2 linked regions of the Homo sapiens genome follow. The protein of the gene in region 2 interacts with the protein of the main gene of each other region in a pairwise test. Each region holds a gene or a part of one and is shown on either strand. Other genes may lie near its edges.

Region 1 (7,040 bases), on a different chromosome or scaffold from region 2:
AGCTCTGCCTTTTCTCCAGGTGGAGGGAGAGGAAGTTTGTTATGGTGCAGGGCTTGCTTGTGTGTGCATGCATGTACTGTCACTGAGCATGCCTCAAGAACTTTCTGTGTGCGCAGGATCCTGGACCTTTTTGCCTAGAGGCCTGGAGTGATGGAGAGAGATGGGGAGGCCATCAGTTACAGTGCAGCACAACACCTGCTCCCTGGTGGGTACTTGGGATCAGAGAGGAGGGGCTGCTTGGTGGAGAGCAACAGAAGGCTTTGAAGGGGAAAGTTGAGCTGAGTCTTGCAGGATGGGCAGGAGTTTCCCAGTCAGAAGGGACTCTGGAATAGGGTGAAGAAGGACATTTCAGGCAGAGGAAGTAGCTTACGCAAAGGCAGGAAGCATGGGAGGATGTGGCATGTTTGGGGAGCTGCAAATAGTTTCATGTGGGTGTGTGTGGGGGTGTGGCGGGTGAGGAGGCTGGCAAGGCGGGCTGGGCCAGAGCCTGGATCTGTCCCTCCCTCTGCCATGCAGACACTCAGTTGGTGCCTGCCCACCTGGGCTCTGGCCCCTGCTGGGGCCTGAGGCTGCAGAAAGGGAGTGCAAGGTGAGTGTGTGGGCAAATTCATGCAGTATTATGTGGGCCACTCCAAAAGAGCCTTGCCTATTGGCTTGTGAATTTAGTTTCATCCTAGAGGTAAATTGGGAGCCATTGAGAGGTTCTGAGCAAGATGACCACATGTGTTCTGGTGTCTTTTGGCTACTGAAGAGGATGTTGAGCTGGGAGTCCCATAAGGCCTGCTGAAGCGTTCCCAGGAAAGACCCTGGAACTCAAACCCAGGCAAGCCAGCTGTAGAAAGGAAGAGAATAAGTGACCTTTCATCCGTTTCTCCATATGACTTATGTAGATGTTTCTTTTGCACAGCACAGGTTGGTAGGGTCAGGGACATGAAGATAGGCTTTGTGGCAGGCAGTGTCTCTTGGCTTGTCAGCAGGAGGCCTGCCAGATAACTTCCTGCCTATCTGGTCATTCTCAAGTCTTGGCGTGTGAGTAGGGCAGTTCCACCATCTAGAGACAAGAGATGGTATTGCAGTGATCTCCTGTGCCTCTGGGTGGGGTGGGAGGAGCTTCAGGCCAAAAGAAGTGACTGTGTGCAAGGTAGACTTATGGAGGGCAAGAAAGTTTACAGCAAAATACTGGGGGAGAAGAGAGTGCCACTGAGCCACGCTGAAAGGCTCTTCAAGAGGGTATTTGAACCGGAAGGACAGGCAGGGAGGAGCTGCATATTCAGAGGTTTGGGTGGTCGGGCATTCTAGGCCATGGACAGTTGTTTGGACTGTGTCATAGCTACTAATAACCACAATTATGGGGCATTTGCTGAATGCTGGACCCAGGCTAAGCTCTCGTGAAGTTTCTTGTTTAATATGGCAGTTCTGTAAGTAGATATTGAGGAACTGGGGCTCCCAGAACCCAAGGGACTTGTCTAGAATCACACGACTCAGATTCGCACCGTGGCCTGCCTCTCTCAAGCTGTGTTTCTGACCACTACACCCGGTTGCCTGCTACTAAAGCTCTGAGCCAGGTTTGGATGCCGTAGGCTTCAAGGGGGCTGCAAGGGGACCAGAGCTGCAGACAGTTGAGGGTGACCGTTAGGGTCTGCTTAGAAGTGAGAGCCTGGAATAGGTGCCCAAGTCCCAGGCAAACTGTGACTAAAAGGAAGGCCTGGGTTGGCCTGAGTAGAGGAGGCCATTCAGGGCTGAGAAACCCCCAGGGGATTTCAGAGAGGGCTTGGAAAGGGCTGTAATGGGAGGGAGAGGTGAGAACAGGTAATAATGACTTCACAGTGCTGGGAAGGAGGGCTGGGGAGAGGAGTAAGTGGAGGTAGAGGGAGAAGCCTGTTTAAACTTAGGGGTCATCCCTGTGAAGGTGAACTGCTGGCAAAAAAAATTTTTTTGCGGTGGGTAGGGAGAAAGGAGCCTTTAGAGTTGAGCAAAACCCAGGATTGAGGGTACAAGGTCTGTGCTGAATCTCTTGGATTCAAGATCATATGTCTCTGAGGGCCCAGTCTGAAGGCTGGTACAGACTTAGGCACCTGGAAAGCTGACGTGGGAAACAGGTAGCAGTAGGTGAGACAAAGTGAGGCCTCTTGATGCCAGGAGGAGAAATGAGTACTGGGCCTTGCAGCATTCATTCAGTCCTAGGAAGTGTTGGAGGCTCACATAGGAGCCTTACATGGCTGAGGTTTCTGGGAGCCAGAGGAGGGAAATTAGGTAGGGAGGCAAGCAGAGTGGGAAGTGCAGGCACTAGCAACCTACAGAGATTTGGAGGGGAACCAGTGGTCTTGGCTTTTAGCCAGGAAGGGACTTAGGAAGTGGGATAGGTCCCTGGATGGGCCATGGGTTGCAGAAGAAGTCTAGAGGCTCTGGTGATGGTAGCTGGCCCTGCCAGAGGGGTGGGGAGGATGATCTCTTCACAGAATTTCACCAGCAACCCAGATGTCAGTGATCCCAATCCTATGTCCTGACAGGTGCTTCCTGCAGCCCCTCCTCAGCCACTTGCCAGGTCCTGACCCTGCAAGCATGTGTGTAAACACACACACACGTGTTCTTGCTTTCCTAGGGCATGACCGTGGAGGGCTCTGAGCTCTTTATTACCACTCCTCAGTTTTGCTCCCTTGCCTGCCATAATTTCTCTGCCTGTAAAGCCTGCTCTTCTCCAGGAGATAGGAGGGAAATTAGCTAATAGGATTTTGCTGGACCCAGGCTGCAGGATCAGCCACTGTACAGTTCTGCTGGTGGCCCTGGGGCGTGGGGGCTGACAGAGGGTCTTATGGTGGGGTGGAAGGGCCCCCTCAGTGGAGCCATGTGGAGGGTGATGGTTCAGAGGTCCTCTCCGCCCTTCCCTCTCCTGGCCTCCAGAAGGGCAGAGACCAAGTCTAACCCCTCACTATGATCCCTGGGTTTCCACAGGGCATGGCATGTTTGTTGAAGGAATAGATGAGAGTCCTGTGGTACGATGCCACAGGCAGGGGCCATAGGTGGGTTCCAGTAAGAAAATAGCTAGCTGTGTCCTGGTATCTGGGGCTGCATGGCTTGTCAGAGCTGCTGGTTCTTTTAGGCCTGATCTGGCACAGTCCCAGGAGGAAGGAGGTCTGAGGGCCTCCTTCCTTTGGCCAACTCTCACACCCATGCTTTGCTTCCCCAGGTGCCCCCTGATAAGTGCCGATGTGCCGTGGGCAGCATCCTGAGTGAAGGTGAGGAATCGCCCTCCCCTGAGCTCATCGACCTCTACCAGAAATTTGGCTTCAAGGTGTTCTCCTTCCCGGCACCCAGCCATGTGGTGACAGCCACCTTCCCCTACACCACCATTCTGTCCATCTGGCTGGCTACCCGCCGTGTCCATCCTGCCTTGGACACCTACATCAAGGTGAGGCACAGGCCTGGGGTGTGTGTGTTGGGGACAGCCAGGCCCCTTGGGTGGAGCTGAGGAGGACTGCCTAGAATGGGAGGAAGAAGTGGTTTTGGGAGAGCAGCACCCTGGGGCCCTCATGGAACAGGTACCTGTGGAGCTAGGAAGATGGGCAGAGGTTGTTGGCATCTCTTTCAGATGCCCAAGATCTTTTGGAAGCCGGAGCATATCCCAAGAGCATGGAGAACTTGTTCATAAATCTGATCTGGTTAGTTTGGCTCTGGCTTTGACCAAAGACATCCATAGTGCTTATCCCACACTCCTGGCTCAGATGAATGGACAGGCCACTTTATTCTCATCCTGCTGGAGGCCTGCAAAGCAAGGACCTGAGGCTCCCAGTGTCTGGGCAGGCCCCAGGTAATCATGTATTGCCCGTGGCCCTGCCTGTGCATGGGCTTATACATCTGCTCCCAGAGGCCAGGGCTGGGACAGCAGTGGCAGGCTCTGTTTCCTTTACTTCCTGACTTGGTTACTGGCAATGCTGGCAGCCCAACCTTCCTGGAGGAAGGAGAGCCAGTCACCTGGTCATCTGACGGGTTTCTGTGTCTACAGAAATTTTTTTAAAACTTGCCCTGTTACACATCCCTCCTCCCCTAAACGTTTTGTAAACTTGGTTGCTAGGGAAATGACCCCAGTTTGGGCTTGGACGTGATTGTTCATTCATTTAACTTGTATTTATAGTCTGTGTGCCAGGTGCTATAATGGGCACAATGTGAATGAAACGTTGGTGCATGAAACAGCCATTCACAGTGAGGTGGTGAAGATAGGTAATAAATATCAGACAAAAATAGGACGTGTGCTAGAGAAGGAGAGGGTGAGAAAAGTCAGGGAACCAACTTGGACAGAATGGTCAGGGACAGCCTCTCAGAGGAGATAACCTCAAGGCAGAGTCCTAGAAGAGCCTTTAGAGAGGAGATAAGAACTTCTAGTCAGAGCTTTGGTCTAAATGCAGCAGGAAGTCACTGCAGTGTTCCAACCAGGAAAATAACACAGTTGGAGCCACGTCTGTACAAGATGAGCTGTCCCATCTCTGGGCAGGGTGGGACTGGACCACAGATCTGGGACCAGGTGGAGATGCTTAGGCCTGGGGCTAAGGAATTAGCCTAGGAGGCTGTCATGAATCCCATTGTGAGTGGTGGCAGCTTGGGCAGGCCCAGCGGCTATAGAGCTGTGGACAAGGATGGAGATTTACAATCACTTTTGGGATAGAACTGATAGACTTTGGGTGGATTCACTGTTGTGGAAGGAGAGGCAGTGAGGGAGTCACAGAGGGCTCTGCTCCCCTCTGGCCTGGGCAGGTGGGCAAGTATGTAGTGATGCTTTCACTGACATGTGGGGAACTGAGGGAGGCCCTGGTTTTGGGGGGAAGGTAGCTATTTGGGCTATGTCAGGGGAGCTGCCTGAGATACATCTAAGTTGGGGGGTGTGGAGTCAGCAATGGTATGTGTGGCCTGGAGTTGAGGAAAGGCTGGGCTGGTGGATATATTTGGGGACATCAGCCTGTTGGCAGTATTTGACCTGGGAGGCTGCCCTGTGCCTCCCTGCCTCTGTGGGACCAGGTAGGCAGTGGACAGCCTGTGGCAGCAAAGGCTGCGCAGAGGGCGTGGCCAGTGTGGCAGGGGTCAGGGAACAGGACGAGAGTCAGTGGGAGTGAGAGCCTGGTACACTTGGAGGATCCTTGCAACTTTGTTCACCAAAGCAGCTTGGGGAAAGGGACACAGCGTTGATGATGGAAATGGGAGTTCAGATGTCCCTGGAGTCTGGTGTTGGGGCTGAGGAATGAATAAATGAGGCCCTGGGTCACCAGCTGTGTCCTTGGCGGTCAAAGACAGGTTTGAAGAATCAGGAGTGAGAAGACCTGGAAAGGGGAGGGCTGTCACGGTGATAAGGCAAGGGCACAGGGAGAATAGAGGGGAGTTTCCTTTGTGAGCTGGAGGGTGGTGGCCAAAAGGGGTGTGGGGCAGGATGTGCTTGCCTGGCTGCGGTTGGACTGGAGGTGGGGGCGGGCTGGCTGGTGGTGTGGGCAGGAAGGAAGATACCAGTGCCCTAGGCCTGCTTAGTGTGCTGCCTCTGGGGAGTCCCGCCCCATTTCATTCAAGGAAGGCCTCTCCAGTCCTGTCGGTGCCATCCTCAACCTCATGGGCCCATCTGGAGGGGCACCCCTGGGAAAGAGACTTCTTGGGTTCCAGACCTCAGAACAGGACATGTGGCATGTGGTGTGGTGGTGAGCAACTCAGCCACCAAAGCCTTTTCCTGGCTTCAGGGGTTTATTTTTAGACACCTTTGTCCAAATTTCCCGGCCCCTGACAGCTTCACAAGTTGCCTGGTTTTGACGTCACCTCTTTGATGAAAGCCCTTCCTCCTTCCTCCCCGCTCCCATGGGAGCCTGTCAGCTGTGCTCCTGGAGTGGGGGTTGAGACAAGGAAGCCAGTGATATGGGGGAGAGCAAGGGGCTTCTCCCAGAGACAGGTGTGAGGCATGCTTGTGTGGGCTTGGCCATCAGCGGGGAGAGTAAGATAGAGGCCGGCTGCCCACAGAAGAGGCATGGCCGAAGGTCCTGGGCTTGTTTTGGCAGCAGGGTGTGGGGGTTGCCTCTGCCCCTGTGTTTAGCCTGACCTTGCGTCTTGGGGAACAAAGCCAGGGGAGAGATGAGGAAGGGGCTAGCTCTGTTTGCTGGTCACAGCCTGCAGTGGACAGGGGTGGCCCTGTGCCTCTCTCAGCCCAGGAGACAGCAAGGAGAGAGTATAAGGCTCCCTTCCATCCCTGCCTTCATCTCCCCTGCCCTGAGGTCAGAGAAAGGAGATTACTAATGAGACTAGTTGCGTCTCACTCTTCTAGCACCGACAGCTTTTAACTGTGTGTGCGTGCGCGTGTGTACACCCTTCTTTTTCTCTCTGGATCTGGGACTGCTGTGAAGGCTCTTCAAATGGAATGACAGCAGCCGTCAGCTTTCTGCTTTGGCAGGGGTGAGAGAGGCCAGGAGCCCTGCTGCCAGGAGTTGCGGGGGGAGGACTTGGCAGGCTCACCAGCCTCTCCAGAGGCTAGGTGAGGGGCAGGGGTGAATGGATCTTAGCTTCGGGTTTGGGAGGTGGAGAGCAGCTGCTGTCCCGGGAGTTGCAGATGTGCCTGAGCCTGGAACAGGATTGGTCTCATGGGACAGAGGGACCTGAAGTTCACGGCGAGAGGCCCAAGGAGAAGCACTTGTCAGGACTCTCGGGATTCTGGAAGGGATGGCTGATCTCAGCTTTCCTGGTTTGCATGGCAGCCTCTGGCTCTCTGGCTAGCCTTCCCCAGCTTGGCAGCCTGGCAAACTGCTATAGATGCTGGAACTCTGCCTTTCTCCATATAAACTGCTAAGGGCCCCCAGGCTGAACACTCATTCCCCTGGAATCCATGCGTACTGTGTGACCATCACTCCATATGGAAGATGCCTCAGCTTTGTCAGGCTGCTCCGCTGGAGTCCAAGGAGGTGGCCTCTAGTACAGGAGGAGACCACTCCCCAAGTCCCAGGAAAGGGGTATCTTCTGGAAGCTGCAGGATGGAACAGAGCTTGCTTGAAATTGCAAACCTGCAGAGGGGAGATGGGGCC
Region 2 (6,277 bases):
CCCCGCTCCTTTCCTGACCGCCTCTGTGTGGAAAGTGTGCTTTTCTCCCAAATCACATCCCCAGAATCGCTTTACACCTGTTTCTAGACCCAGAGAATTTTAGCTGGGGACTCCGACTCCTCCCTGTCAGAGTTTGAGGCTCCCCCTCCCAAACCCCATGGCAGGGATAAGAGGAGGGAAGGCTGCCTCTGTGCAGAGGATGGAGAGAAGGACATCAAGGAAAGTCACTTGGGACTCTGGAAGCCTGAAGGCGGCCAGGCCAACATGCTCCCTCTGAATCCCCTTGCCTGTGGGAAGGGGCTCCAGAAGAGATGAGGTGCCTCCTTGGAGTTAGGCCAGTGTGTGCTGGGGTGCCCCGGCCAACTCCCTCCTTATGTGTGTAGGTGTCTCCGGGGGTGACGCACAGATGGAAAACACCAGCGTGGGGCAATGGCTGCGTGAGGGTTCACGATACAGCAACTCACCATGCTGTAGGGCGCACCGTGTGTGCTACACCTCAGCACGAAAGGGAGAAAAGACAAAAAACACCTCTAACACCACTTGGGGCTGTGACTGTATTTACTTCATTCTTGAATCCCGCGTCCCCGTGGCTGGGGGCTGACACATCCCTGGGCACCACTGTGACTTCCTGTGGGTCCCTTCCCTTCTGTCCCTGACTCTGTAGACCCCCCACAGGAAGGGTCCTAGGTAGGGGGAGGTTCCTCCTCCCTTGAAACCCTGGGCCACTCTGTCAAGGCAAAGCCTCTGGGCCCAGCACCTTGTAAAGGCTTTGATGAGAGGAGCTCTGGCTTTTGCTCAGGGCCTTTGGCACCCCACCCTCCAGCCCCCAGGAATGCAGGCGCTCAAAGCCTGTGGCTAGGCTGCCCGAAGCGCGTGCCGCAGTTCTTCTGGAGTGGGAGCAGGGGGACAGAGCTTTGGGTAGAGGAGGGTCACCTGCAAAGCTGGAATGCCAGGGGAGTGGGCGGTGCCTCCAGCTCCTGGGGGCCAGGGTGTCTCCATACCTCATGGGCCTGAGCCTGGGCAGGGGTCTGGAGTGCACATAGCCCCCAGGCAGGGAGAGGGCAGTGACAGGACAGAGCCACTCATCTGTCCCAAAGCTGCACCCAAGGGGTGTCAGCAACCCCAACCTACTGACCTACTTTGGGACCACAGGCCCATCTAGTGCAAATGAGGCCCAGAAAGGAGAAATGCTTTGCTCAACAGCCACAGTAGGCTGACGTAACCTATGTAATGTAGGGTCAGGGTGGGCCTGAGGGATGAGCCAGGTGGTGGGCAGGTGACACACCAGGTCCCCTCCTGGCCTCTGCCCCACCCAGCCCTCTCCTGCACGGCTACCAGAAGATGTCCGGGAAGAACAGACTAGCCCTGAGTAGGGAGTGTGGTCAGGTGCAGAGGAGGGCAGGGGCCCGGATCCTGGCCCAGAAACACTCTAAAACAGAATCCGATCCTGAGATGATCCAAATCAAACAGAAACTTGACGGAAATAGTAGAGTCTGAAAATGATGCACTCTGCGCACACATATACAAGACACACACACACACACACACGAATCCACGCACACGAGGCACACCCCACTCATGCTCTCGGTCTCTGGTTACACACCCACACCCCCCCTACTCCTGTATTCAGATGCCCTCCATGGCCCACCCTCCCACCCAGCAGAGCGCCAGAGCCTGGTGCCAGGGACTCAGTGCCGACTGCTGACGTGAAGGGTGTAGAAAGCCCAGGGCTCAGGGACGTAGATGACACCCGGGTACTTCTTCCTGAGAACAGGGTCATTCCACAGCCAGGCGACCCAGAGCGCCACAAGCAAGAGGGTCAGTGCGAAGGAGGAGAAGAGGAAGAGGCCGTTGCTGTCCAGGAAGAGGCGCTTGCGCTTCTGGTGCAGGACGAGGGCCAGCATGGCGAAGAAGGTGAAGATGAAGAGGATGAAGATCTGGCCCTCGGTGACCAGGTACCTGGAAAGGCCAGGGGTGAGTGAGGCAGCTGCCGTGGCAACCCCGTCCTGCCTGGCATCCCTTCCTGTGTGCGAGAGCCAGGCTGCCCTCCAGGCAGGCAGAAGAGTCCTCTGGTGCCAGGGCTCAGAGAACTATGCCGCTCTAAGCCACAGCCCATGGGCAGCATATTGATTTAGCTGGTATAGTTACTGTTTTTTAAATGTTGAGTTTGTTGCCAATATTTAAATAACAGAATACCTACAAATGTATATTTCTGGCTTCTCTGGTCACATTAAGTTTATACTTCCACACAACAAAAACTGACTAGAGGAGAAAGCAACAAACAATTGCCATTACGACGGCAGCCACCCCCGCGGCAGGATGCCGGGGTAAGAACCAGCAGGAAGCGCTCCCCTAACGTCTTTCCCGCTCACTGTAGCTGCCACCCATTCTTTTTAATCCCCAGAGAGCATACAGATGAGCCCCAGTGGGCCATCTCAGCCACATAGGGGACAGGCCGGGGAGAGGATCTAGAGCTGGCCCAGGAAAGGAGGCCCTTTTCATTTTGAGGGAGGCCTCCCATCAGAGAAGGGTCCAGTCCTGCCCCGACCCTGTCCTTCCCATGATACCCACAATCCCAGGGTGACCTGTCTCCAGGGCAGAAGTGACAGACGAGGGCTAGGAGACTGGCTGAGGCCTAAGTCCTCTGCAATGGGAAGAAGAGAGAGCCAGAGGGAACAAAGACCCAAGGCCAGAAGCCCCTACGCCATGAAACCCCCCAGTCTGGCCTCGCCATAGTGCTTTACATTTGACAAAGCCCCTCTCTGTCCTCAGCATCCTCATCATCTGAGAGGCAGACAGGCAGGTACCATCATCCCCACTTCACAGAGGTGGAAACCGCAGCCCACTACAGGGCTTGGTGTCGGAGGTGGATTGTACCGGCCCCAGGGCAACACTGGGGTTCTTGAGATGGGGCACAGAGCGAGAGGGGCTTGAGGATGGAGACAGACTGTGCAACCTCGCCCTCTCCTCCCACCTCCCTGCCACACCCAGGCCTGGGCTTCATGGAAACAAAGAGGCCACCACAGGGCATTGTCACAGTCCCCACTAGACACAAGAAGAAGCACGGGCCCAAAGAGGGCCAGTCTCCCTGGGGCCACACAGCAGGTCCATTGGCAAGTGCAGAATTTTGCTGCCGTGGCTCTCTCAGTGCCCCTGCCTCTGCCCCCATGCTGATGTCCACTCACCAGTAGTACAGGCCACTGGGTGCCACCAGGAGCAGGGCAGGCCCTGGAATCAAGCTCTCAGCTTTAGAGGCAGTAAAGCAGCCGCTGAAGTACATGAAGAGGATGAGGAAGAAGGGGATGTACCTGTGACAGGAAGGCCAGTGTCTTAGAGGCCTGCTCAGCGGCCCTCTTCCCCACAACCTCTGCAACCACTCCCATGGGGTCTCATGGAGTGCCACGTCACAGTTTACAAAACGCCTAGCCTGGGTGAGAGGCGCTCCTCTCCACCCAACCTTGCCTGTGCTGGGCGTCAAAGGTGGGACAGAAACAGAAACAGGAAGGCAACGCACGTGTGAGTCAGAGGCCCAGAGGCATCCACACCGCCCAGGGCACCTCACTCACTCCGTGGGGGTAAGGGGTGTCTGGGGGGTTGTCTGTCTCATGCACCGCAGACACCAGCAGCCCAGCACCACACTAGCCTGGAGACAGAGGCACCTCCCGGGCTGAGGATGGAGGTCCACATGTTAAAAAAGAGAACAGCACCTGCAGGGGCCTCTTGGTGAAGCACTGCACCCACTCTCAGCACACAGCCCCACCCCCACCTCAGACACCTCACCCCAAAATACTACCCTCTCCCCTCTCCACACACCGGCTCCCTTTCTCCCACCTGTGCTTTCACCAGTATACCCGCCTGCCTCTTCTCACCCACACCCCCTTCCTGCTGGGGCTCCAGCTCTCTGTTCCTAGCCCCTCCACCCTTCCCCAACCTTCTGTGGGAAGAGGCTCTGGCAAAGGCCAGGGAAAGATGGCAGGAGGCCTGTCCAGGGACCCTGGACCAGCTGAGCCAGGAGGATTGACATCGCAGGGCCCGAAACACCCTGGAAATGCCCGTGCAGGGTGCGTGTGCTGTGAGCACCAACTCAGGAGTGAGCCGGGTCCAGGGCTGGCCCTCACCTCCCAGCTGCAGCCTTCGGAGCCCTCCTCCCTCTGGCCTCAGTTTCTCCTGGGTAAGATGGGAGGGTGGAACAGATGAAGCCTCCCAGCCTGGGCCCGGGATCTCCTGAGGCTGAGACCACATTTCTGAGGTCTCCCCCGACTGAGGGACGGGGTAGGTAGGAAAAGGTGCCCCTCTGGGAGTTCTGAAGAGGGGGGAGCGCAAACAGCACGCCCCTCCCCAGCCTGATCCAGCTGGCTCCCCGCAGCTTCCTCCACTCCCAAAGAGCAGGCCCGACACGGGTGGGGGTCCCTGGCTGTGCCCCCACCCCCTGCCATCACCATCTGGGGGTTGTTTATCAGGGACGCGTCCTCCTCCCCCACCCTCAGGGCTCAGGCTTGGCGAGGAAGGACCAAAGCCACTCGCTGCCCTCTGCTGGCCACAGCGGGCACTGAGGGCTGGGCGGGGGTGGCGATGCTGGGGGGATGCTGGCTGGAAGCCGGGGCCTGGAGCCTGGGACAGCAGCTGGGTCTCCCGGGCAACCTCGGGGACAACTTCACTGGAGGTTGAGCTCACAGTGCCTTTACAGGGGATGAGACTCAACACATGGAGACCCGCAGCCCAGACAGCCTTGCTCAGTGTGTCCCTGAGCCAGTGACAGGGCTAGCCGGTAGTTGGGGCCCCTGGGATAGACAGATGGGCCCATCACTCACCACATGCAGTGACCCAGGTACTCATCATAATAGTAGAGCAGCTCAAAGGAGTCGATCTGAGGGAGGAACGGGCAGGGCAGAGTCGGGGGATGTCGATGTCAGTCCAGGGAGGTGCTGGGGCCCCAAGCATCCCCTCTGACCACCCTTCTCCCAGTCCCAGGCCTCCCCCACTGCCTTATTCCCTACCCGGGGCCTCGCCTTCTGTTACAGGGGCCCAGGTGGGAGGCAGTCTGTGCACCACTTCCTAAGAACACTTGAGCATCCTAGCTTGGGGCAGGCGACAGTGCCCTCACCTAGCAGAATGCCTTTGGTGAAAGGACAGGTGCGGCGAGGGGTGGGGGCCATTTCTTCAGCCTCCCAGGACAGACTGTGCTCCTAGGGCTTACAGGCAGGGAGCAGGAGGTGGCCTCACCAGCGTCTCCGGCTTGAGATTCTTGATGATGGGGTTCTCACGGACAGACAGGTGGTGCTGGTAGCCACTGAAGAGCAGGCGGTGGTTGACAGAGTCACCCACCAGGTGGATGCTGGCACCCATGATGAAGATGATGATGCTCACGTACGTGATGGAGCGTGGCAGGGTGCGGGGGGACCGCTCGATGAGCTGGGGTTCAGAGTGGGGTTGGCAGCATGACCCCACCTCTGTCACAGTATGTGACACCCTCTGCTTCCCCCCTCACACCTGGGGTGGGATGGACGCTTCCAGCTGGAATGTCACTCCAAAAAGTGGCTGGTCCCTTTAGCAGGCCAGCCCAGCCTCCAGATCCTCCCGTGACCCCTATGAACCCCGGAGGGAATGTGGAGCAGCACCCCCCGCTGACTTTACCCAGGGAGCAAAAAGACCAGAGGGCCCAACTCCTTTCCCAAAGTCACACATGAGCTGTAGGCTGGAGGGGACAGCCCAGCCTTCAGTGCAGGAGTCCAGGCTCAGGCCCAGCCCTCCCACTGTCCCTGGCTGTGTCCCTGGGTGGCTGGCCCAGCCTGCTGAAGGCACCTTCTGATTTCTGAGTGGTCCCAGCAAACATGAAGAAAATGTCAGGGATGGGGGCAGGTGCTTCTGAAATGCCACTGTTTAACTGAAAACACACCGGAGTTCTGGGATTATACCCCTCCTACTTCTGGAGATTTGAAGTATCTTTCTTCAATACAAAATGATGGTGATAGTAAATGGTGATACAGGCTGAGCATCCCTTATCTGAAATGTTTCAAATTTCAGATTTTGGAATATTTGCATATACACAATGAGATATCTTGGGAATGCATATGCAAGTCTAAACATGAAATTCATTTCTTTCATTTTTCTTTGAGACAGGGTCTCACTCTGTCACTCAGGCTGGAGTATAGTGGCTCAAGAGATCCTCCCACCTCAGCCCCCAGAGTAGCTGGAACTACAGGTGTGCACCATTATGCCCAGCTAATTTTTAAATTTTTTGTAGAGATAGGGTCTTACTATGTTGCCCAGGCTGGTC

What was found. Proteins that work in one complex are often made in the same cells at the same time.
Region 1: the proteins of CLN6 (region 2) and TEX264 interact in binary tests that used the Homo sapiens proteins (3 or more experiments, as listed by UniProt).

What each region holds. Positions count from the first base shown.
Region 1 is NC_000003.12:51,681,226-51,688,265, forward strand, and holds part of TEX264 (testis-expressed protein 264), read left to right. Parts: intron 1-116; exon of another isoform or gene 117-160; coding exon of another isoform or gene 161-205; intron 206-3,187; coding exon 3,188-3,409; intron 3,410-3,589; coding exon of another isoform or gene 3,590-3,649; exon of another isoform or gene 3,650-7,040. UniProt on the Homo sapiens protein: Major reticulophagy (also called ER-phagy) receptor that acts independently of other candidate reticulophagy receptors to remodel subdomains of the endoplasmic reticulum into autophagosomes upon nutrient stress, which then fuse with lysosomes for endoplasmic reticulum turnover.
Region 2 is NC_000015.10:68,206,452-68,212,728, forward strand, and holds the end of CLN6 (ceroid-lipofuscinosis neuronal protein 6), read right to left. Parts: intron 5,413-6,277; coding exon 5,224-5,412; intron 4,868-5,223; coding exon 4,812-4,867; intron 3,309-4,811; coding exon 3,186-3,308; intron 1,960-3,185; coding exon 1,689-1,959; 3' UTR 541-1,688; downstream 1-540.